4 linked regions of the Homo sapiens genome follow. The protein of the gene in region 3 interacts with the protein of the main gene of each other region in a pairwise test. Each region holds a gene or a part of one and is shown on either strand. Other genes may lie near its edges. The genes, in order: DCAF6, LMCD1, TRIM55 and MYBPC3.

The links.
Region 1: the proteins of TRIM55 (region 3) and DCAF6 interact in a two-hybrid assay, tested with the Homo sapiens proteins (one study listed by BioGRID).
Region 2: the proteins of TRIM55 (region 3) and LMCD1 interact in a two-hybrid assay, tested with the Homo sapiens proteins (one study listed by BioGRID).
Region 4: the proteins of TRIM55 (region 3) and MYBPC3 interact in a two-hybrid assay, tested with the Homo sapiens proteins (one study listed by BioGRID).

The regions. Positions count from the first base shown.
Region 1 is NC_000001.11:168,044,652-168,051,693, reverse strand, and holds part of DCAF6 (DDB1- and CUL4-associated factor 6), read right to left. Parts: coding exon 7,023-7,042; intron 6,795-7,022; coding exon 6,467-6,794; intron 803-6,466; coding exon 761-802; intron 1-760. UniProt on the Homo sapiens protein: Ligand-dependent coactivator of nuclear receptors. Enhance transcriptional activity of the nuclear receptors NR3C1 and AR. May function as a substrate receptor for CUL4-DDB1 E3 ubiquitin-protein ligase complex.
Region 2 is NC_000003.12:8,497,594-8,504,864, reverse strand, and holds the start of LMCD1 (LIM and cysteine-rich domains protein 1), read right to left. Parts: upstream 3,043-7,271; 5' UTR 2,927-3,042; coding exon 2,885-2,926; intron 1-2,884. UniProt on the Homo sapiens protein: Transcriptional cofactor that restricts GATA6 function by inhibiting DNA-binding, resulting in repression of GATA6 transcriptional activation of downstream target genes. Represses GATA6-mediated trans activation of lung- and cardiac tissue-specific promoters.
Region 3 is NC_000008.11:66,172,087-66,175,985, reverse strand, and holds the end of TRIM55 (tripartite motif-containing protein 55), read right to left. Parts: intron 1,516-3,899; coding exon 1,393-1,515; 3' UTR 501-1,392; downstream 1-500. UniProt on the Homo sapiens protein: E3 ubiquitin ligase that plays an important role in regulating cardiac development and contractility, muscle growth, metabolism, and fiber-type differentiation.
Region 4 is NC_000011.10:47,330,864-47,335,702, reverse strand, and holds the end of MYBPC3 (myosin-binding protein C, cardiac-type), read left to right. Parts: intron 1-493; coding exon 494-661; intron 662-1,692; coding exon 1,693-1,781; intron 1,782-1,950; coding exon 1,951-2,146; intron 2,147-2,369; coding exon 2,370-2,509; intron 2,510-2,729; coding exon 2,730-2,889; intron 2,890-3,000; coding exon 3,001-3,137; intron 3,138-3,444; coding exon 3,445-3,631; intron 3,632-3,821; coding exon 3,822-3,832; 3' UTR 3,833-3,858; intron 3,859-3,986; 3' UTR 3,987-4,297; downstream 4,298-4,839. UniProt on the Homo sapiens protein: Thick filament-associated protein located in the crossbridge region of vertebrate striated muscle a bands. In vitro it binds MHC, F-actin and native thin filaments, and modifies the activity of actin-activated myosin ATPase.

The sequences.
Region 1 (7,042 bases), on a different chromosome or scaffold from region 3:
GGCTTATTTCATGACTTCTGTATTTTTCATTAGGAACTCTACAAACTTTACATTTCTGATTGTTGCTATATGTTTCATGTTCAACTGTTTTAGAAACTGATGGTAAATAACAGATATATGCCTCTAGAGTTAAGTACAAGGTTGATTTTGTCAGCAAAACAGGTTTTCAGTAGGTGACTGATGTCATTGAGGTTCACTTTAAAGATCTACTCAAAAATATGTCCCAAATAGAGAAGTGCTTGAGGCTTATATATCATCTTGATATGTGACACTATTTCTAAACTATTTATAAGGAAACAACTTTCTTGCAAAAATCAGAAACCTATACACAGATTTAGATTCAAGTACATTTTTAGTTATTGAGCTCAAGGAAAAGGAGCATATACGAATAACAAAAAGTTGGTAATTGTTATCCCAATCAAATTTAAAAAACATAAATTGCATTCTTCAACAAAATATCCAAAAAGAGTAACTGATACTTAAAGTACATCATTTCAGATTATAGTTACTTTGCCATATGACATATTTGAAGTGAACATCAGTCTGCACACAGGAAATTTCTTTTCATTCTATCCCCATGCAGTGCATGCAGCTAAATATAGTTTGTGGAAAGCGACCTGCTTTACAATGCTTAGCACTTAGAATTCAGTAAGTCCAAAGGGAGTATTAACTGTTAATAGGAAAGGTGGTTAGCTGTGGCAAAAGAAGACCTGGCAAATCCATCATAAAAAAAAAATTATGAAGGAACATACTGAATTACCTCATTATTCTATCACCTATTGTTGTTCCTCTGATATTAAATCTAGTGAAGGGAACACAATAACTGAAATCACTTACAAAGACTTCAAAGAACCAAATATTTAAAGCATTAAGGACACCCTTTTTATCATCAATCATCTCAATTTAAAAAAAAACTTTTGTTTCCCTTTGTGACTTCGGGCATTAAGCAAGGAATATGTCAGTCAACTAAATGTATATGAAGAAATTAAGGAAACAGAAACACTCATTGAAGCTAGAATAGAAGGAAGACATTGCACTTAATCCCTTTTATCTTTTAAATAAATCAGAACCCAATCCTGTCACAGTATGGGAAACTGCACTGGCTTATAATGAATACCATCCTCTGGAACACGTACATGCTCCTCAAAGCTGAGGAGCTCTTTGGAAAATAAATAATTAAGCCCTAAGCTAATTCACTTGGCCTAACCACAAGACTATATAACAAATGAGCAAAGAATAACAGGGCTTTTAACTCCCTAGGAGTCCAGTTCTTTCTCTTTGAGTACATCTTTTCTCTCTGCAATTTTCTTTAATAAAGAGTAAACTGCAATAATGAGAAATAAGGAAATCATGGTTACAATGATGACTGAATAAATGCTGCCAAATTTACAGTACAAGGAATTTTGGCTTTAAAAGTGAGGGCTATGCTCCATGGTCCAGAGTAGGTATATGGAACCAAATTTCTATGAAAATAACACTTTAAAAGTTATTAAAGGGCAATATAGGATAAATCACTCTTTAGGGAAAAAATTGTTAGATCATCCTAACTGAGGCTATAATTAAAAACTATTCAAGACTATGTGAGGACTTATTCAGGAAGCTTTCTTAGATGCTTGTTTTTTTTTTTCAGAGAGTAATTTAGGTTTTCTCTTGAGTTTAGAAACAGTAAGAGCTACCAATCAGGCCGTCAAATCACTTACAACAGATTTGGCATTGTAAAAAAAAAAAAAAATTATACAGCCTGGGTGCGGTGGCTCATGCCGGTAATCCCAGCACTTTGGGAGGCTGAGGCAGGCGGATCACGAGGTCAGGAGATCGAGATCATCCTGGCTAACACGGTGAAACCCCGTATCTACTAAAAATACAAAAAATTAGCTGGGCGTGGTGGCAGGCGCCTGTAGTCCCAGCTACTTGGGAGGCTGAGGCAGGAGAATGGCGTGAACCTGGGAGGCAGAGCTTGCAGTGAGCCAAGATTGCCCCACTGCACTCCAGCCTGGGTGAGGGAGCGAGACTCCGTCTCCAAAAAAAAAAAAAAAAAAAAAAAAAATTATATGCAGATTATCTAAACAGAGATCTCAACCACACTCTTTTCATTCCAAGGGCATATATTTACGTTTCTTAACCCAGTATATGGCCAGGCGCGGTGGCTCACGCCTATAGTCCCCCAGCACTTTGGGAGGCTGAGGCTTGAGGCCAGGAGTTCAAGACCAGCCTGGTCAACATAGTGAGACTGTCTCTTCTAAAAAAAAAAAAAAAAAAAAACAACAACAACAACAACAACAAATTAGCAGAGTGCAGCAACATGCACCTGTAATCCCAGCTACTTGGGAGACTGAGGGAGGAAGATCGCTTGAGCCCAGGAGTATGAGGTTGCAGTGAGCTATGATCATACCACTGCACTCCAGCCTGGGCAACAGGGCAAGACCCTGTCTCAAAAAAATAAAACAAAATGAAATAAATACAGTATATAAAATCACTAAAAGATACACATACTATTTTTTTGCTTTGTTTTGCTTTTTTCCTAAGTCAGACTTATTTTTGACATTAGGACTAATTTTATTTTTTTAAACACCATGATTAGAGAACAAACATTTCTTTCTGTCTTTTTTCAATTTATTTCCCATTTACTGTTCCATGTTCTTGCCTTACGCAAAGTTAAAGGGAACCCAAATATGTGGAGATTCATATTATTTCATTGTTTCAAAGTCTGGATTTTTGCCAGTAGAGGCATTTTACCACAGACTATAGTTTGATTTCTCTCTATAACACTGATTACTATAGAGCAGGTATTTGCAAGCTATGGCTCTTGGGCTAGATCTCCGCCAAATGCCGATTTTTGAAATGAACCTTAGGCTAAGAATAGTTTTTACATTTTTAAATGTTAATATTTTAAATGGTCATATAAGTACCTACCATAATGGTCTCCATTTTGTCTCCTGGCCAACAAAGCCAAAATATTTACTATATGGCTCTTTAGGAGTAAGTCTGCTGCTCTGCTATAGACTCCCAGTTACATTTACATAGACTTGCTGTAGTTAATGAGAAGAGCATTCCATTTAAAAATATCTATGTTAGTTGTTAAGGTCTTCATTTTCTAAGACATTTCCTTCTCATGCTTGATCTCAGCCCAAAAGTGAAAACCTGGGTCATTTATTTAACCAAATTATAAGAATGTAAATATTTTTTTAAAAATCATTACTCTGTATTGCAAGGAACTGTTCTGATATTTTCAGTAAATTTGTCAGAAATGACTTAGCTATAAAGCCTTTTAAAGTTTCCTTTTAAAAATTAAATTTGGAACAAAAACTGATGAGGTCCACTATATAGTTCTTCATATAAAGTACAGATCAAATTAAGTATACACTTGTATAATATTTAATTTTAGGACCACTTCTCTACCCCAGCTAAACTAATATTGACTGGGCTTTGCAAATGGCAGCATGGAGGGAACTTTAAGACATACATCCTTTTAGGTGGGCATTTCATCCATGTGTGCAATGTATCCTTGGACTCTAGGAACCAAATGGTATGATTGTTACAACAGAGCTTCACAACCCTTAGTCTCTTGGGAAACAGAAACTCTCCAAAATCATAGGACTAATTACAAGCTGGTAAGTGATTCTTTTCATGTTCTTAAGAAGCAAAATCTCTTAAACTTTCTCTCTTTAGAATAAAAGTCAGCTAAATTGAGAAGTAAGATAAACTGGCAGGAGTGTCAATGATGAAGAGCCCTTAGAAAGGTGCAGAAATATTAAAAGTATACTTTTTTACAGTTGTTCAAGATTAAATCAGGATGGTGCCAAAAAAGTTAAGAATTATAATAACCGATTTAGATAAAAGTCAGAGGAAATATTTACACCATTTACAAATTTTTGGTAAAGAGCTAGAAAATAATGCAAATCTCAAAGGAAAATTAATGTAATTGTTACTCTAATCACTTTCTAATTACCTCAGTATACACATCTTTTATATATATATACACACACACACATATATATATAATTGTATTTACTTTCATATATTAAATGTTTTCTATGTTCCTATAAATGGCTTCGGTATTCTCTCTTATTCATAAATAATTAAGTTTCTTGAAGGATAAGAATTTTATCGTTCTTCTGTTACTCTTCAGGAAGTTTACTACTATATCTTACAAAACAAAATACCATGTAGGACCAACATAGGCTAAATACTCAAATGAGTGTACAGAATATTAAATAATATTTAATTTTTAAAAAGCAGGGAACTAAATGTGATCCCAGAGTGGTTTCAAATCTGGATTTAACCATGAAAGTATGAATTCAAGAGTATATGCATGAAGTGGGATCAGTTCCAGGCTGTTTGTTGTCACTGATTATCTCTCTTCTAAAAGATTCTGCTAGTCTAGTTCAGCATCTGGGTTTCCTTGGGTCAATGAGGCTATTGGGAACCAACTTTGTGACAGATCTAAATGCTAAAAGAATCCCTAAAACATATAAATCATCTAAGTATTATGAAGATGATAAAGATCTATAGAAAGATTACAGTTTCTGTATTCTCTAGGACCCACCCTCCCTCAAATCCTCCTTTCTCATTAATGTTATAGTACTGTGTTTCAAAAAACAAAACTCCTTAGCTCTAGAATATACAAAACCCTTTGCTTAGCACCTAAGTTTCCTCAGCTATAAAGCAGGCTTGGTATTAAGTGTTATAATTAGCCTGCATAGAAGCTGCTAAATAGTTATGACTTTCTCAAAGTGTCTAATATCCATTAAAAACATTACTAGAAACTGGGCACTTAAATTTAATTTTCAATTATGACCTCCGTATCATGTTCTACTACTTAAATGTAGAAAAATAAGACATTAGCTCATTTATATAAATGGAAGGCCATAAATGTACAAGCTTAATTATAGAATCTAGCTCTCAACCCTGGGTTTTGGAAATTATCAGTTTGATTTTGGAAATTATCAGTTTGATTTTCAAATTGTGCTAAGCTTGCTAACCTCATCTGCATAAATTAAGTGGTAATGACATTCTAAGGAACTCCCTCTGGGTATGGAAAGAAATAGAACTAAGTCTTACTTGCCTAAAATATATACTAAGAATGCTCAAGATTACTGTGTACAGGTAAAGAGAAGATGTTTGATTAATCTCTAAGTATAAACATGGGAAATTCTTGCTTCATATCTACAAAAAAAGTGCCATGGCAAAGTAAACATTTCCCAAATATGACTAAAGAAAGAAACATACCCTTTCATAGTTAAGAAAAGGCAGTTCCCCTGAGCTGCAAGCTATCCTCTTCAGGATTTTTGCCTGTCTTCTTTCAGTCTTTATCCCTAGAGTCATTCTTACTGTAATTCTTTTAAAAATTAAAGTGGCCTCATAGACTATCTTGATTGTTTAATACAGCTATCATTTAATTAGTGCTATTAACATGAGCCAGGTCACATCATGATTGACTGATAGATTTTTTTAAAATTCTTACAATAATTTTAGATAATCATAACCCTATTTTATAGATAAGAAACTGAATCTTTAAGAGTCATTAAGTAATTTGAATGAAAAAACACTGCTGGTAAGTGGTGAAACCAGTATTCAAACCCATCATCATGCTCTTGACTATGAGTGGTAAATTAATCTTTCATTATATTTTTCAGTTGACAGATACTTTAGGGTATCTTATAAACAGCAATATATTGAGCATATAAAATGTGAAATATTTCAAATAGAATCTCACTCCTTTGTAAACTAGGATTTTAAGATTAAAACTAGGTTCTCTGAAAGAGGACAGAACTTACAATAAGATATGATAGCACTAATAATAGAAATAGTTTTCCATGAGTATGAAATGCAGTATACTTTAAAAATTTATTTTAACTCCCACAAAAGAAAATATATCCTTGTGATCACATAAAATATAGAAAAACTATAAAAACATGTTGGCAATTCAATTTTTTATTGCTGCTATGGTATTTATTTGGTATAATTTTTCATTTTCTAAATTCAGTCACTAAGTTTAGTAGAAATCAAAGAAAAACAGTGTTCCCAAAAACAGAACTACTAACACACTACCTTAATCCAGGGTCAATAGAAAAGCAGAAAAAATTAACATTAAAACCAAAACAACACTGATAAAGGCCTGGATATCTACAAGATAATCTGAGAGCTAAGTATAACCTTGACTTCATAAATAACCTGTGGGTCATTCTTAACATTCTTTTCTCTTGATCTGTAAATTCAGAAGCAAGCCTCAGTGCTAGAGATATGGAGAATGAAGACTTTTTATTTCCCTATTAATGCACAGTGCTCAAAGAATATAATACGTAAAATCATTTACAGTAAACTGTAAAGTTTCTTTAAGTTTATATGAATGAGACACTCTTAGAGGAAGCAACTGTCAAAAATGGAGAGATTCCCTTCAATGACTTCAAACAAATCCTTGTGAAATACATTTTTTACAGTTCATGTTAATTAAAAATTTACCAACCTATCACCAGGTCCTGCTCGATACCTTGCACCTGGGATCAGGACTGGGTCATCATCACTGTCATCTGTGTCCTGAAGAGCAGAGTCCCTGGTGGATGTTTCTTCATGAGCTGAAGGCCCAGTGGCTTCTGTTTGGAACTGAGGCTCAGGATTGGTGTTATTTTCATTGGTAGCACTCTCAGTGCTAGTCTGATCTGAAGTTTCTGGTTCCTTGGCTTTTTCAGATGAAGCAGATTCTTCTGGAACCCCACAAGAGCGATCAAGATTGAGGTCATTTCTTTCTCCTGAGTTGGAATCCAATGGCTTGGCTGTGAACTTATCTGATTGTGCTGTCAGAAAATAAAGTTGTATGTAACAGGTGGTAATGTGGGCAATACTAATTATTTAACCTAACTTAGGAGCTCACAAACACATTCTAATATGATGTCTAATTCCTCTATAAGGGGAGGAAACTTCCACAATACACTTGAACATGGCCTCTAACTATAGAGAGATTAACATAGATTAAGGCTTTTTATTTTCCCATACAAAGCAATTATCTAAAGGGAGCAACTCACTTATATTGATATGGTTCTCA
Region 2 (7,271 bases), on a different chromosome or scaffold from region 3:
AACAAATCCATAGTCGAGATTGGTTTCACCCAGAAAAATGGCATTTGGCCTTCAAGGCCCTTTGTTACCAAGAAATGTTGGCGATTTCACCATTCTCAGGGAACTGTCTGTGCTAGGAAACCTTCTCTTTCCTAATAGAAAAAAAAAGATGGTTCAAGAGCAGCCGGTGGAAGCATTTTACTTAGAAAGAAAGAGAGAAGTTAGGGAACTTGTAAGCTCTGCCACGATGTATGTATGTGGCCCCCAGTGAGTCTCTTTCCCCAGCCTGTCTGGGGTTGGTTAGATGACCTTTAAGTCTACTCCAGTTTTTAGATTTTATGTTCTTTGCTGAAGATCTTTTTATGACTTTCCAGTTGGTGGGGATTCCCGCCCCAGCCCCCTCGGGGGTAGGGAAGCGGAAACAGCCTGTATGCCATTTTAAACCATTTCTCATTTTGTAAATAGGCCCCTTGTAGCTCTAAGAGTCTATGAAATTGTTTCAAAATGTCTAAGTGCGATTATGCATCCTGAAGCCAAATGTTATAAACCTCCCCCACATACTGTTGCAGATTTAAAAAATAAATATGCAGTAAAAGCTTTTCAGCGTGTTGCTGATATCACGTAGTACTTAATCACTTCTGTGACATTCAGTTCAGCAAGGGGAGCTTCTCGGCTCTCCTCCCTCCCCTCCACATTTTGAGTTGAAGGCATTGGTTAACCTACAAAATGGTGATCTTCCTCCTGATTGTCGCAGTCCCAAGAGATAAAAAAAATCTGCCCTTTCATCTCTACCCACCACATTCTTTCTCTAAGCCTGTAATTGGATCTAAATGGAAAACAAACCCTTTGCAGGCCAAGGAAGTTGGCACTAGGGGGTGACAAGAAGGAGAACATGTTCCACCTCTAATCAGGATAATCACACTCCCCTATGCAAAGGAAAATAAAAACAAGGCTTCCTCCAAGTGGCAACACAGGACTGTGGTGAGGAGGAGGAGTCTCCATATACCTCATCTCACCTCATACAGTAACTATCAACCAGCTTATATTAAAAATACTCAGAATCATTTCACTTTCCAGAGGACAATGGAACTCTGCCACCTTTAGCCGTGAACTATTCTGTGTCTGAACTTGGGGAGGCAGTTCAGACACACAAATATCAATGCTACAAGTTAAAAAATAATGCATAAAATGAAGCCTATGCAAACAGTGTGGTCTTAGCTGGACAGATATTCTCATGAGTCACCCACAGGTTTTTGAGTCCTGCTGTGTGGCATGGTGTGCTATGTTCAAACAGGGATGAACAAGACAGGTTTGCCCTCAAGGAGTCCAGAAAAATGTATAGAGAAATAAGAGCATTGCATGCATAACTCACTACTAGGTAGCAATTAATAGGTATCTTCTAAGAGTCTAAAATGTTATGGTAATTTCTGTAGGAGGGGAAATGACTTGATTCTGCAAATAGCTTGGCAAATGCAGTGAGGCATGATACATTCCAGACAAATGCCCAGATTCAATGTGACTTGGTACCCACATTTAGAAGGATCCACTGGACTCTGTGACAGGGTCTGGGCAGGTGGTCTACAGAAGAGCACAGCTACAAATTAGACAGTGCATGCTGTGCCTCTGAGTGGCTGTTTGTGTCTTTAGTTTGATTCTCACGTCTTTTGTTTTTCCCCCTCTCATTCTACCCTGCAGGTTAATGGCAGATATTTAAGGAAGACTTTGCCCTTCAAGACTAAACCCTGTGAAATCAGAGTTTAACAATGACTGCTTTGGGAAATTAACTCACAGTGTCAGTATCCCTGCTACCACTGCCATGAGGGAGGTTAGGCCTATCCTCCCCACATCAGAGACAAGGAAACTGAGGCTCAGAAAAGTGACCTGGTGAATCATGTGCAGTTAAAAAGTGGCAGGGACTGAGTCTGGATGCCTAGGGCTTGCCTTACAGTCAGCTGCCTGTTAGAACCAACTCTCTGTGACCCCGGGCCTCAGTTTCCCGATCTGTAAAGCCTAGGTTGTCTCTCTGTTCCCTTCCCGTTCACATGTTCTCTAAGTCTCCAGCCTGTGCCTTCTCCCAGCTGCATTCAGGTAGGCAACAAGTGGTATTGGAGCTATAGGCACAGCCGCAGGCTCCTGTGCAGGAGTTTACCCATGACCTTCTGGGCTCCGGGCCAGCCCTTCTTGTAAGGGAAACGTGCAGACCCTGGGGACAGAAATCAGTTCCCTTATGCTGGAACTGCTGCCACTGCCAACATCACCAACTAAAGAAACTGCGTGCGTGTGTGTGTGTGTGTGTGTGTGTGTGTGTGTGTGTGTATTGGGGGAAACACACAAAACACTGGGATAATAGCAAAAGGGAGACTGTGAGTAAATATTACATGCTCTCAACCCTTACTTCAGCCACCTGAGGACAGGGAGTGAGGAAGCTAGGGGTTTTTCCTTTACAGACCATAAGATTTCATATATATATATTATATATTATATATATTTTATATATAATATATATTATATATATTTTATATAATATATATTATATATTTTATATATAATATATATTATATATAATATATATTTTATATATTATATATAATATATATTATATATATTTTATATATATATTTTATATACATTTTATATATATTGTATATATATGTAAAACCTTAATTAAACTTTAACTAGCATCACCAAAGACATAAGACCCTTTGCAAATATTTTACACAACATTGGGTTTGGGGTGTGTGTGCCTGTTAGCTCAAACATGTATTCCCAACTATTTGTTTTCCATGCAGTTTTGGAATTTAAAGAGTTCCCTTCTCATTACCTTTTGGGAAGTTTCCGCGAACAGATGGGAAGGGGAACAAGAAAAAGTAAGAATCTGGGTAAATACAAACAGCTTTCCACTCACCTTTTTAACTCCTGGGTTGAGGTCCTTAGCCACCTTTGCCATCCTCTTCTGGGGTGGGGGAACAGCGCCTGGCTTCTCAGGCAGAGGCGCGAGGGCGCGCAGCGGGGACAGCGGCGGCTGAATGGCCAAGTTCGCGGGCCTGGGAGGGAGCTCTGTGCGCAGCCAGGCGCAGCTGGGCCGCTTTAATTGGAGAGCGGGACTCCCTCTAAAACCTCGCCAGCCACTCCGCGCCGGCGCTCGCGCGAGGCCAGCCAATCCCAGCGCGAGGCTGTCCCCCTCCCTCAGGGAGGTCTCTGCACTGTGGCAGCGAGCGGAGCTGAGCGCCGGCTGCCCTGACGTCAGCATGGCCGCGGCCCCTGACTACCCAGCTCCCTTCTATCCCTCGAGCGGCAGGAATCCGTCCCCACGCCCTTTTCCTTTAAAGGGCAACGGGCCGAAGGTGGGGCGGGCGGCGCGGCTCCCGCGATCCATTCAGGTCAAAAGGGAGAGTGATCAAACAGGAGAGCCGAGGTATTTTTAGTGAGCTGGATCCAGAAATAAATGCTGAGCTGTGCTCCCCTTCCCACCCTTTCTGCCTGGTCGTAGGGGGCGCGGGGAGGGCTGAGGGAGGAGGTGTTTTGCAGGAGCTGGCTAACGTTTCCCAAACCTGGGCGAGTTCTCCAATATCCAGAGAGGAGAAAAGATTCCAGCGAGTTATGATTTTTTTAAACTTAACGTTCGTAAAGTATTAAACTGCTTTCTTATAACTTGCTTTAACATAAATCCTTCTTATTCCATGAGCAAGAAATCACTGTCCTGATCTTAGAGATGCTCCTGTGGACATACTGTCTTGTTGTATGCTCATATTATCTCAGATATTATTATTATTATGACTGTAAGACGATAGATGAGGAAATAATCAGAATAACTGGTCCACAGCTGAATTACTGAGCAAGGCTTTAACCTGAGAGACTGAGAGTAATAGAGAGAAAGCTCATGGGGGCGTGGCGGGGGGGGGGAGGGAGGCGGCGGGCACAGGATTGTAAACTATAAACTAGGAAGTTAGTAATTTTTAGATAAATGGGGTCATGCAGGCCTGGACAAACAAGATTCCATCTGAGTTCACAAATCCATGGAATGTGGAGTCCTTGCAACGCATAACATAACTACTCTTATAAGACAGAATTGGCCAGGTTCCTCTCTCTATGCCACGTTGTTTGCCTATAAAGCCACATCTCTCTGCTGAGCCGGTTCCACAGACTTGGATTCCAGAGGCATTTCCCCCCTGCCCTGACAGAGGATTAAACACAAGCCCTTTTTATCCTAGAGAGAATACTGCTGTCTCTGTTGTGAGGTGTTCGGCCTGTAACCCGTCTTTGCAGTGCCCCCTGCCAGAAAAACCAGGGTCCCGTGGGCTAAAATAAAACTCGGTTGCACAGAGACTGAAGAGTGGTCCCGAAGTACACCATTCGGGAGGGATTTGGTGAGAAGGGGAGGCTGCAGTTCCCACTGTGGGGCTGTCTCTTGCTGGAGGCTTTTTCCTCTTGAAAGCCTCCTCCAATTTAGTTCTTATCATCATCTCCAGTCATCCCAAATCTCAGCCAGGGATCCTGAATTGTGACTTTTTATTACATATTCCTGGAAAGGGCTTTTTGTGGCTTATCTTTTCCAAGATGAGGGATGACCTATTTCTTTTTTCACAGATTTCTGCTATAATTGATTTTTGCCTTGTTTGCTCCCAGCTATGTCCTCAAACACCTAGCATGTGGTATAGGCACAGTACACATTTGGCAAATGAATAGAGGTTGGGTTCTGGCTTTTATTTTTTTTATTGATACATCATGATTGTACATGTGGTATTTTGATATATGCTTACAATGTGTAATGATCAAATCAGGGTGTTTAGGATTTCCATCACCTTGAACATTTATAATTTCTTTGTACTGGGAACATGTCAAATCACTTTTAGCTTTTCTTTTTTTTTTTTTTTTTTTTTTGAGACAGAGTCTCGCGCTGTTGCCCAGGCTGGAATGCAGTGGCGCGATCTCGGCTCACTGTGACCTCTGCCTCCCAGGTTCAAGTGAGTCTCCCACCTCGGCTTCCCAAGAAGCTGGGACTACAGGCATGAGCCACCATACCTGGCTCATTTTTGTATTTTTAGTAGAGACAGAGTTTCACCATATTGGCCAGGCTGGTCTTGAACTCCTGACCTCAAGTGATCCTCCTACCTTGGCATCCCAAAGTGCTGGAATTACAGGAGTGAGCCACCGCACCTAGCCTCTTTTAGCTATTTTGAAGTATACAATTCACTGTTGTTGACTATAGTCACCCTACTGTGCTGTTGAATGCTAGACTTTTTCTTGCTATCAGACAGTGTTTGTTCGCATTAACCAACCTCTGTTCATCCCCTCACACCCCAGCCCACCATTTCCCAACCTCTGGTAACCTTCTTCTACTCTCTACCTCCATGCAGTAAGCAGGCAAAGTAAGAATAGGGAGAGATGGTGCAATGGCACACCTGGCCTGGTTTGTCCAAACTTCCAAGGTAGGCTGCATGTTAAACCAGTATGTAAATAAACAGTGGCCAACAGAAGCCTGGCCTGGGAGAGGAGGTTTCCACATGAATAGTCCTTTCAGTAGCAAATCCTAGGAACAATAGTGCTAAATCAGGATGTCATGCCAGAAGCCTTTATATTTTAGAGCTGTGGGAACAGAAGCCAGGAATATAACAAAGGCAAGCTTTATCCCTTTCAAACGAGGCAAAAGCCTGCCCAGTGAAGTCATTTCCCACTCCCTTCCCAGCCACCCTCCTTGCCCCATCTTGAAAAATCATTGTTCCATGAAATAATACTAATTTTATTAAGTTAACACTATTTATTAATAGCTCCAACCACAAGAGTCTCTCCCCCTCCTTATTTTTACCCTTGGCTCCAGGTACAATTAAGGAGGCAGATATTGCAGCTGTTTCTCAGAATTTCTCAGAACACGAGTGTCAGGAGCTGTTGCTTGGGGTGGCTCATTCCCTTCTTTCTGGAAAAAGACCTGCTGTAGGCAGAGAGGGGATCCCTGCTATCTGCTAGAAGTTGCTGTCTCCTCAGCTGAGGATTCTGACTTTGACACTTTAAACCTTACACTTGACCCTCTTGTTCCAGGGGACCTATATTCAGAGACTTAACCGGACACCTGGACAGACCATTACAACTTGGGACTTTTCAGGAGAATGAGGGAAATGTAGTTATTGCACCTGAGCCTCACTCCAGCTCTGAGGTCCTCTTCACTTCTCTTTGGAAGAAAATTGGATATCTTTTCCTAGTTGAAAGAGTAGAGATCTGATTTCTCCAAGGATCATCGCTTTTTGACACGGGATTATTAGAAGCATTCATTCATCTATCAAGGAGTTTTGGGATACTTGCCATAAGCCAAGCCCTCTGATAGGTGCTGGAAACATCAAGGTAAATAAAAGAGTTCTTCTCCTTGGAGAACATATTGGTCTAATAACTACTTCTGGGGCTCCCTGGTTGACAGAGCCCTAATCTTACTTGAACTCCAAGACAACTAGTCTCAGAGAAAACAGAAATCCCAAACAGTCCCAGGGCTGTATCAAAGGTCATACAGCTGGCAAGTGGCAGAGCTGAAATTTAAATTCAGAGTTTTTAACTTCAGATTGCACCCTTTCACCTATACTGCACTGCTTCCATAATGATTGCAGATGGTTGATTATAAGCAAAACAGGAAGCACTTGGATTAAGATGCTGCTGTTGTTGTCATCATTATCACTGGGCTTGTCCTAACTGGGATTTTTGACTCTGAGTCTCGTATTCTTTTTACCATTCATGAACAAATTAATTAAAGAAACAAATATTGAATTGGGAAATACTATGGATTAGGCCCTGAGCTGAGGATGCAACAGTGAATAAGACAGGAAATGTCCCTCCCCTCATATAGCTTCTATTCTAATGTGTGTAGGGGAGACAGGCATTAAACAAGTGGATAGATATTTAGATAAGGTAATTAAGGATGGCAGTGAGTGCCTAGGAGGAAATAAATGGAGAAATTCATTGGACACAGTCATTTTAGATTAGGGGGTCCAGGAAGGTCTGGCTGAGCAGGTGGTGTGTGAACTAAGCCCCAGTGAAGGAGAATGAGTCAGCTGTGAGTACAGTCCCCATGGAGAGAACATTCCAGGAGGATGGGGTCATGAGAGCAGAGACCCTGAGATGAGTGCGAGTGTGGCATGTCTGAGGGATCATGAGGTCAGTGTAGTGGGTCAGGGAGAATGGTATGAGGAGCCTCAGGTGAGGCATGCAGGAGCTGGCTCATGTGGGCCCCATAAACCATGCTAAGGAGTTTATGTTCTCTCCTGGAAATGGCAGGAGGTTAGACATCAGTGCTTTCCCACTGGAACACA
Region 3 (3,899 bases):
AATGCTGCATTCTTTTTCTATGAGAAAAACTCACTCTGTCAAACTACTACTTTGGTACCATAAAACTATTTTTTCTAAGCTATTTTCCAATGACTACATCTAATAAGAGAAACTTAATAGCATCTCCACTTAAGACGACTAAATTTAGTCATTATAAAATGTCACATAGGAAAATTTTCTTATGAAGAACATTTTGACTTTAATAATTACACAAATATCCTCCACATTTTTGCTTATGTCAACCCTAATCACTTTTATTCTTAGGAACAGGAACTACCTTTGTTCATTTCTAAAACTGAACAGCACATTTAATTAGTTTTACAGTGCATTTGCCTTTGGTAGTTTAGTTATAGCTTTAAACAATTCAATCAAATGTTTAATACTTCAAAATTAATTTGTCTGTATGAAGATGCATCTTATCCTGGGACCCTTGAAATACACTTAACTAATGGATGAATAAGATAATACAGAACATTGAATAAATCATTATAAGACGAAGCTTTTAAAAACATCATTTATTTAAGAGTTCATATAAAGTTACACTTATGTTCTGAAGGAGGCATTATGGTGGGACAAATATTAACAAAGCATGATTTAAATATATATATATTTAATGTGTGATATGTTTGTATATATATTTAAACACATGCAATTGTTCTACAATTTACCAGATTGGTGCCACAGTGAATAAAAGAGAAAGTAGACAGCTTTTGCTGGAAGATTCAACTAAAGTGCCTAATACGTGAAAATCTAAAACTAATATTAGAAAAATGTCACAAGAGATGCCCAGGCCTTCAGCTTTCTGGACCATGAAAGTGTCACCAAATTCAAAGAACATTTCTGAATGTACATCCAGTGACATCTGTTATGCAAAAGAGGAAAACTTTGTGAAACATTTCATAGCTTTGGTCAATGATTTACTTTTTGTCCATGTATTGATAAATCAGTCACTTCTGAGTTGACACTGATTTTCACTGACCACCTGCACTGTTAAAGAGTAAAGGAAATGAAAGCTACCATAATATAATAACAAAAAGTCAGTGCCTATGAGAGACAAAAGCATAGTGACCACTTTTTTCACCATTTGCCACTTGTTAGTGACATACACATGTACCACACCTACACACCCTTCACAACATTTTCCACACAATAGAAGATTTGTATAAGATCAAGTTTATTATTTCCAGTGCTTTCTGCAACTATTTTCTCAAAATATTCTTTCCCCCCAAGATGTTAGATAAGTCATATGGAATTGCAGTTTGGGGCTATTTTTGCAGAAATCCTGTTCAGAGGTCCCTTTCATCATCTGCATAATATTAATTTCACTTGGGCTTCCTGCTGCCCACATGCATCTCAGCCAGGCAGACAGAGGGGCAGCAGTTGGAATGAATATCATTCATTTAGGGAGTTCAACCAGGAAAAGGAGAAGATATGGCGAGCTGGCTCAGAATCAGCTCCACTGCCACTCGCTGGAGCTGCAGCCTGTCCCTGGAGGGGAGGAGCCTCAAATCCAATCTGCAATGGAAGAAAATGGGAATCAGAGAAAAAAGAGGTTTGTTCTTTTTGGATTGGTCCAGTCACTTTTCTATTGAGGAGAAAGTATAATAATAATAACAATTATTATTATAATAACAATATTATTATATGGCACATAATTATTAGAAATAGAAAGCAAGCTCAGATTATTTTGGCTACAGCCAAGAGTCATGAAAATAATTCACACTCATGATACAAAAAGAAGGAACAGTAATGCATGCAGTGGAGAGAAGTTCTTGGGAAAAAGGAGTTCAGGCTATTCTAGTTTTTTTTTTTTTTAAGTCCACTTGTACATGATTTATTCAGATGAAAGTCTCATTGAAACCTCTAGGAACTGGGTTTAGAAAGGGTTGCAGAATTTGAAAAAATTCCAAATTTAAATGGCACTGCTATGCCACATGACATTGTGGGACATATTAATATAATCCCTCCACTGCTGAAGAAGTTTCTAGCATGCATATACATATATATTTTCTTACTATAATTTTTACAAAACTACAGGCTTAATTTTGGGCAAATCATGATGGGATTTTTTTTTCTCTAGGTAATAAAATCTAATAACCATATCTATATTAAATCAAATCCAATATAAGCATGTCTAAAGAAATAATTATCTTTTGTAGGCACCTGAGATAGACAGGTTGCAATTCTGAATTTATTGATTAATCTATGTCATAAGCAAAATTTACTTATGTTGTTTTGCCTTTAAAAATCACAACTTAATGGAATGAGGGACAATCAGGAAGAAGTCTTGCTGAAATGCAATTTGATTTTATGAGCTCAAACTCTTTACATTTCAAGGTACCATGACAAACACCGTCCTTCCTAGGAGAACTATGGATAAATAAGCAAACATGTTCCGATGACATCACTGGTAAAATTATCCCACCAGATTAGAATGCCACTGATTTCAAAGCAGTGAGGTAGCCACATGCATTCAGCTCAGAAGCCCTGGATGATTTTATGAAGCTGCGATATGAATGGATAATACCTGGCACAAGTAAAGCAGAACTTTGGTTAAGTATGTTGTTTTACTGCCACTCAAAATAGTCTTGAGAGCAAAATGAGTTATTGGCCTGCACTTTACCAGATTTTACCCTAAACATATGTTTGGGGATGATGTTTCAAGAGCAATAAAATTATCCTAAGTCTTTATGGCTTTGGGATAATCCTTTGTACTGCCACATTGCTTCCTGATAGAAAGTTAAAAAGGGCCATGAAATCATATTAGCCACAGTAGAATAAAACTGAAATAGGTAGTTTTCTATGAAGGAATAGTGGAAACATCAAGCGAAATTGGGCTTTTTGAAAAAGAACGTTACTAGATTCTGTTGGTAATGTGTCAGATACCTCAATGTCCTTGAAAGTGAAGTAAAATAAACATTATCCTGACAGAATCCTGCACCTATTTTTACACGTCCAACTCCTTCCTTGCCCACCATAATCCTCTTACCCTGGCTAATAAACAAACAAACAAAAAACAAACCCTTAAGTCTCATGTATGGCTTATGCAAAAAACAACAACAACAAAAAACCCCGAAAGCCCAAATGACCTGGGCATATATAAAAAGACTTATTTTTAACCATTCAATTTGAGCAAATAGCGAATTCCGCCTGGATGAACAGACCATCAAGGTCCATTTTGTGGCCTCTTTTTCTTGAAGGCAGTTTCTAATCTAAAGGGAACTTCCATGGCAGCTGTTCTGACATAGTTGAAGGGTGACACAAGTTGGGTAATGTGTTTTCTGCAGAAGGCAGAACCTTTGGGAAACTGCTGGTAGCGAACAAGCCCCTGGGACTGCTTTTGGAATATGTATAAATTTTTGTGCTTTCCTCTACTAGAGATTGACATCTATCTTCCATTTAAAATGTTTTAGTTGTTAACCCACTATTGCCTTCATATTTGGGATTACATAGTTTGGGTTGGCTTCTCTTACACTTCCATGTTTCCAGGAAATTATTAAGTTTTCCTCCAAACAATATGGACCAATGCTATCTTTCAGAAAAGAAAAGCCAGTACCAGAGTGGGGGGTTATCCAATAGCAGAGGTTATCCTGAGTATCTTTAGATAATTGCACCATCTCCTTGGTCTTGTTTATATCCACTGAGGACCCAACAACCAGCTCAGCAAAGAAAGTTCTGTGCAAAGAGGCTTAGCCTAGTTTTGAATCCCACACAAACTACTTATTAGCTGTATGACTTGGACAAGTTAGTTAACTCTCTGAGCCTTAGTTTTCTCTTCTGTAAAATAGAGATGAGAACCTACCTTACAAGGTTGTCGTAAGGACTGAATAAAGTAATACACATAAAGCACTTTACACATGCCTCACTTATATTAGGTTGGTCCTTCCTTCCTTCCTTCC
Region 4 (4,839 bases), on a different chromosome or scaffold from region 3:
AATGCAGAGTAAAGCTGACTGTAACACTTCTTTGAGCAGTGCGAAATCAGCAACTACATTTTAAAAACATATTTAAGGCCAGGCGCGATGGCTTACGCCTGTAATCCCAGCACTTTGGGAGGCCAAGGTGGGCGGATCACCTGAGGTCGGGAGTTCGAGACCAGTCTGACCAACGTGGAGAAACCCCGTCTCTACTAAAAATACAAAATTAGCCGGGTGTGGTGGTGGGCACCTGTGATCCCAGCTACGCGGGAGGCTGAGGCAGGAGAATCACTTGAACTCGGGAGGCAGAAGTTGCGGTGAGCCAAGATCATGCCATTGCACTCCAGCCTGGGAGACAAGAGCGAAACTCCATCTCAAAAATAAATAAACAAATAAAAATTTAAAAAAACATATTTAAATCCTGGAGATTCCTATCAGAGGAGTGGGCAGTGGGAGTGGGGTGTCAGTGGTGACACAGCCTGTGGCCTTGCCTCCCCCTCCCCACCCCCAGGCTCAGAGTGGGTGGCTGCCCTGCAGGGGCTGACAGAGCACACATCGATACTGGTGAAGGACCTGCCCACGGGGGCCCGGCTGCTTTTCCGAGTGCGGGCACACAATATGGCAGGGCCTGGAGCCCCTGTTACCACCACGGAGCCGGTGACAGTGCAGGAGATCCTGCGTGAGTGCCCCTTTGTGCAGTCACAAGACCCGCCATTGACACCCCAGGCCCTTGGTGTCCAGTGGAGGTGGGGACAGTTGGGGAGGCCCAGAATGCTCTGCCCAGAACGCTGGGCAGAGACAGGAGGGGTTGGAGCCATCGTCCATGCGCTAGGCCTAGGGAAAAAGTGCAGAGAGGGTGGCCAGGCACAGTGGCTCAAGCCTGTAATCCCAGCACTTTAGGAGGCCAAGGCAGGCAGATCACTTGAGGTCAGGAGTTTGAGACCAGCCTGGCCAACATAGTGAAACCCTGTCTCTACTAAAAATACAAAAACTAGCCAGGTGTGGTGGCGCGTGCCTGTAGTCCCTCAACTACTTGGGAGGCTGAGGCAGAAGAATCGCTTGGACCCGGGAGGTGGCAGTTGCAATGAGCTGAGATCACACTATTGCACTCCAGTCTGGGTGACAGAGTGAGACAACGTCTCAAAAAAAAAAAAAGTGCAGAAAGGGCTCTCTTGGTGTATGTCAGTCCCTTAGTTCTGGAACAGGGAAAGTAAAAGCCACAGTACCCAAGCTCTCTTCCAGGAGTGTCTCAGCTCCAACAGGTAAATATTGTCTATGTAGTCAGATTGGTCCCTCTGGGATCCACTTCCCATTCCTTTGTTCCTTGTCCCAACAAAGGGTCCATCTTTTGTAAGGATTGGTTCTCAAAGCTGGAACGAGGCAGCAAACTCAGGTGGTAACAACACAGGGCATAGGGTGTCAAAGCCCAGGCTTACACCCTGGTCTATGACTTACTAGCTGTGTGACTTCAGTCAAGTTGCTTACCCTCTCTGATCCCTGCCTTTTGAAGTGGTGAGGCTCGGGGAAGCCAGCTGGGCTTGGGCAGCCTGGAGTTGCTGTGTTAGCAGGAGCTAAAGGAGGCGCAGGGCCCAGCAGGCAGCTTTTTTCTTAGCTGCAGCTCTCTGGGCCTTGTCTCAAGGGAGGTTGGAGCTGTGGAGCCCCTCAGAGCTGTGGCGGGCCCTCACTTAGCTACCCACTCTATACCCACAGAACGGCCACGGCTTCAGCTGCCCAGGCACCTGCGCCAGACCATTCAGAAGAAGGTCGGGGAGCCTGTGAACCTTCTCATCCCTTTCCAGGTGGGACTGGCCCCCTTCCCTGTCCCCCAGGGGAGAGAGGCTATAGTGTGTTGTTCCCATCCAGTGGACTGATGTCTCAGGGCTGGCCTGATCTGAGGTACCAGAGGCTGGGGTGGCGGCCGGCCCTTGGAGTGATCCAGGTTCAGGGTTAAGCTTTTCCTCCCCTCAGGGCAAGCCCCGGCCTCAGGTGACCTGGACCAAAGAGGGGCAGCCCCTGGCAGGCGAGGAGGTGAGCATCCGCAACAGCCCCACAGACACCATCCTGTTCATCCGGGCCGCTCGCCGCGTGCATTCAGGCACTTACCAGGTGACGGTGCGCATTGAGAACATGGAGGACAAGGCCACGCTGGTGCTGCAGGTTGTTGGTGCGTGGCCAAGGCCTCCTTGAGCCCCCTTGTTTCCCTTCCCTGGGCTGGGCTGCTGGGGCCAAGGGTGGGGCCAGGGGACCCAACCCACAGCTCACATTTTCCAGTCCACTGCCCCAGCAGGCCTGGCCCTGGTTGGCAGGGGTGGGGTGGTCCCTGGAGCCAGTGACCCCCTGCTCACTGTCAGGAGGCGTGGTGACCCAACTGGGTCTGTCTCCCGCAGACAAGCCAAGTCCTCCCCAGGATCTCCGGGTGACTGACGCCTGGGGTCTTAATGTGGCTCTGGAGTGGAAGCCACCCCAGGATGTCGGCAACACGGAGCTCTGGGGGTACACAGTGCAGAAAGCCGACAAGAAGACCATGGTGAGCCCAGGGTCTGGGGTCCCCACGTGCACCCTGCCTAGGCCCGGCAGACCCAGGCCGCAGCTACCCTTCACTGTCCTCACCGTGGACCCCTCACCCTCCCTCTGCTGATCTGAATCCCTCCATAGTAGGGGTGGAGATGCCAAGGGCACCCAGGAGAGGCTCTCGGCATCAGGAAGGGCCTGGCCCAGAGATGCCTCCCCTCCCTCCCTGCCCCCAGGAGTGGTTCACCGTCTTGGAGCATTACCGCCGCACCCACTGCGTGGTGCCAGAGCTCATCATTGGCAATGGCTACTACTTCCGCGTCTTCAGCCAGAATATGGTTGGCTTTAGTGACAGAGCGGCCACCACCAAGGAGCCCGTCTTTATCCCCAGACCAGGTGCTGTACCCTCATTCTTCCAACCAGGGGCTGGGGCAGGGAGGCTGTGGGAACAGGGAGAGGGGCCTAGCTTTGTGTGGCCCTCTCGGTACCAAGTCCTGTCACCAACAGGCATCACCTATGAGCCACCCAACTATAAGGCCCTGGACTTCTCCGAGGCCCCAAGCTTCACCCAGCCCCTGGTGAACCGCTCGGTCATCGCGGGCTACACTGCTATGCTCTGCTGTGCTGTCCGGGGTAGCCCCAAGGTAGGGAACTTTAGGCGCTGGTCCAGGCCGACCAGGAGGCAGGGCTCACAGGCCCCGACGTTGAGCAGTCCTCTCCCCAGCCTGTCTCCCCTGCTTTCTCTCCACCTTGGGGTGTATGGACCGGGTTCCTCCCCCTGGGCAGGGCCATGGTACTCACTCTTGGTTCCATGTTTGTTTCCAGCCTTGGGCATAGTCAGGGACTCTCGTGGGACCCCCCGAGTAGAAACACAGATGTGTCTCCCTGGGTCCCTGCCAGGTCCCCTCTCAGCCTGGATGGCTTCCCTCCCTCTCTTTACCTTATTTATAGCCCAAGATTTCCTGGTTCAAGAATGGCCTGGACCTGGGAGAAGACGCCCGCTTCCGCATGTTCAGCAAGCAGGGAGTGTTGACTCTGGAGATTAGAAAGCCCTGCCCCTTTGACGGGGGCATCTATGTCTGCAGGGCCACCAACTTACAGGGCGAGGCACGGTGTGAGTGCCGCCTGGAGGTGCGAGGTGAGGAGCCCTCGGGGCCAGGGCCTGGGAGATGGGAAGAGCGGGCGGCAGTGGGGACCCTGGGCTTTGCTCCGTTGTCCTCGGCCAAGCACCTGCCCTGGCTGCAAGGGCACGGACCCTGCCACGCCCAGATGGGCAATAGCTTCCAGAAGGCTGGGAGGACACAGTGACATGGCCTCCTCTTCTGCAGTGCCTCAGTGACCAGGCTGGCTCCTGGGGATGGCCAGGTATGTACCACCCGACACCCAGGGCACAAGTCAGTGGCTGAGCCCTGGCCCTTGGTCCTGGGGCAGCCATCAGTAAATGGGAGGCTGTAGGGGCCCTCCATTCACTCGTAAGATAACCTGTGTTGCAGGTACAACCGGATGCCAGCCCCGTGCCAGGAGCCTGGAGGGAAGTTGGGGAAACCCCTCCCTACTGTTGGATGTATGTGTGACAAGTGTGTCTCCTGTGCTGCGATGGGGGATCAGCAGGGCAGTTGTCGGGCAGTCCTGAGTGGGTGTTGCACAGACTGGTCCACAGGGCTCCTGAAGGAAGCCCCTGGATCTTTGGGGTAAAAGGAGGGTGGCCTCAAGAAACAATGTCTGGGGACAGGCCTTTCTGGCCTGCTATGTCTTCCCAATGTTTATTGGGCAATAAAAGATAAGTGCAGTCACAGAGAACTCACTCTTCTCAATTTCGGTGTGCCTGTTTTCATAAAAATGCACAGGGGATGGCCAGGTGCGGTGGCTCATGCCTGTTATCCCAGCACTTTGGGAGGCGGAGGCGGGCCGATCACCTGAGGTCAGGAGATCAAGACCAGCCTGGCCAACATGGTGAAACCCCGTCTCTACTAAAAATACAAAAATTAGCTGGGCAAGGTGGCGCGCCTATAATCCCAGCTATTTGGAAGGCTGAGGCAGGAGAATCACCTGAACCCAGGAGGTAGAGTTTGAGGTGGGCCGAGATCATGCCACTGCACTTCAGCCTGGGTGATGGAGTGAGACCATGTCTCAAAAAAAAAAAAAGAAAAAAGCCCAGGGACATTGATCTTCACAGCAAAGTGAGAGCAGATACTGTTTTTTGTTTTGTTTTCCCGATGATTAAACCAGGCCCAGAGTGGTTTCTGAGTTCATAAAACATTAACGCTAGAAGGAACCTGTCTTCCCCTACAGCATTCACTCTTCAGATGATGAAACTGAGCTGTGACAGCGGAAAGTGCATTTAAC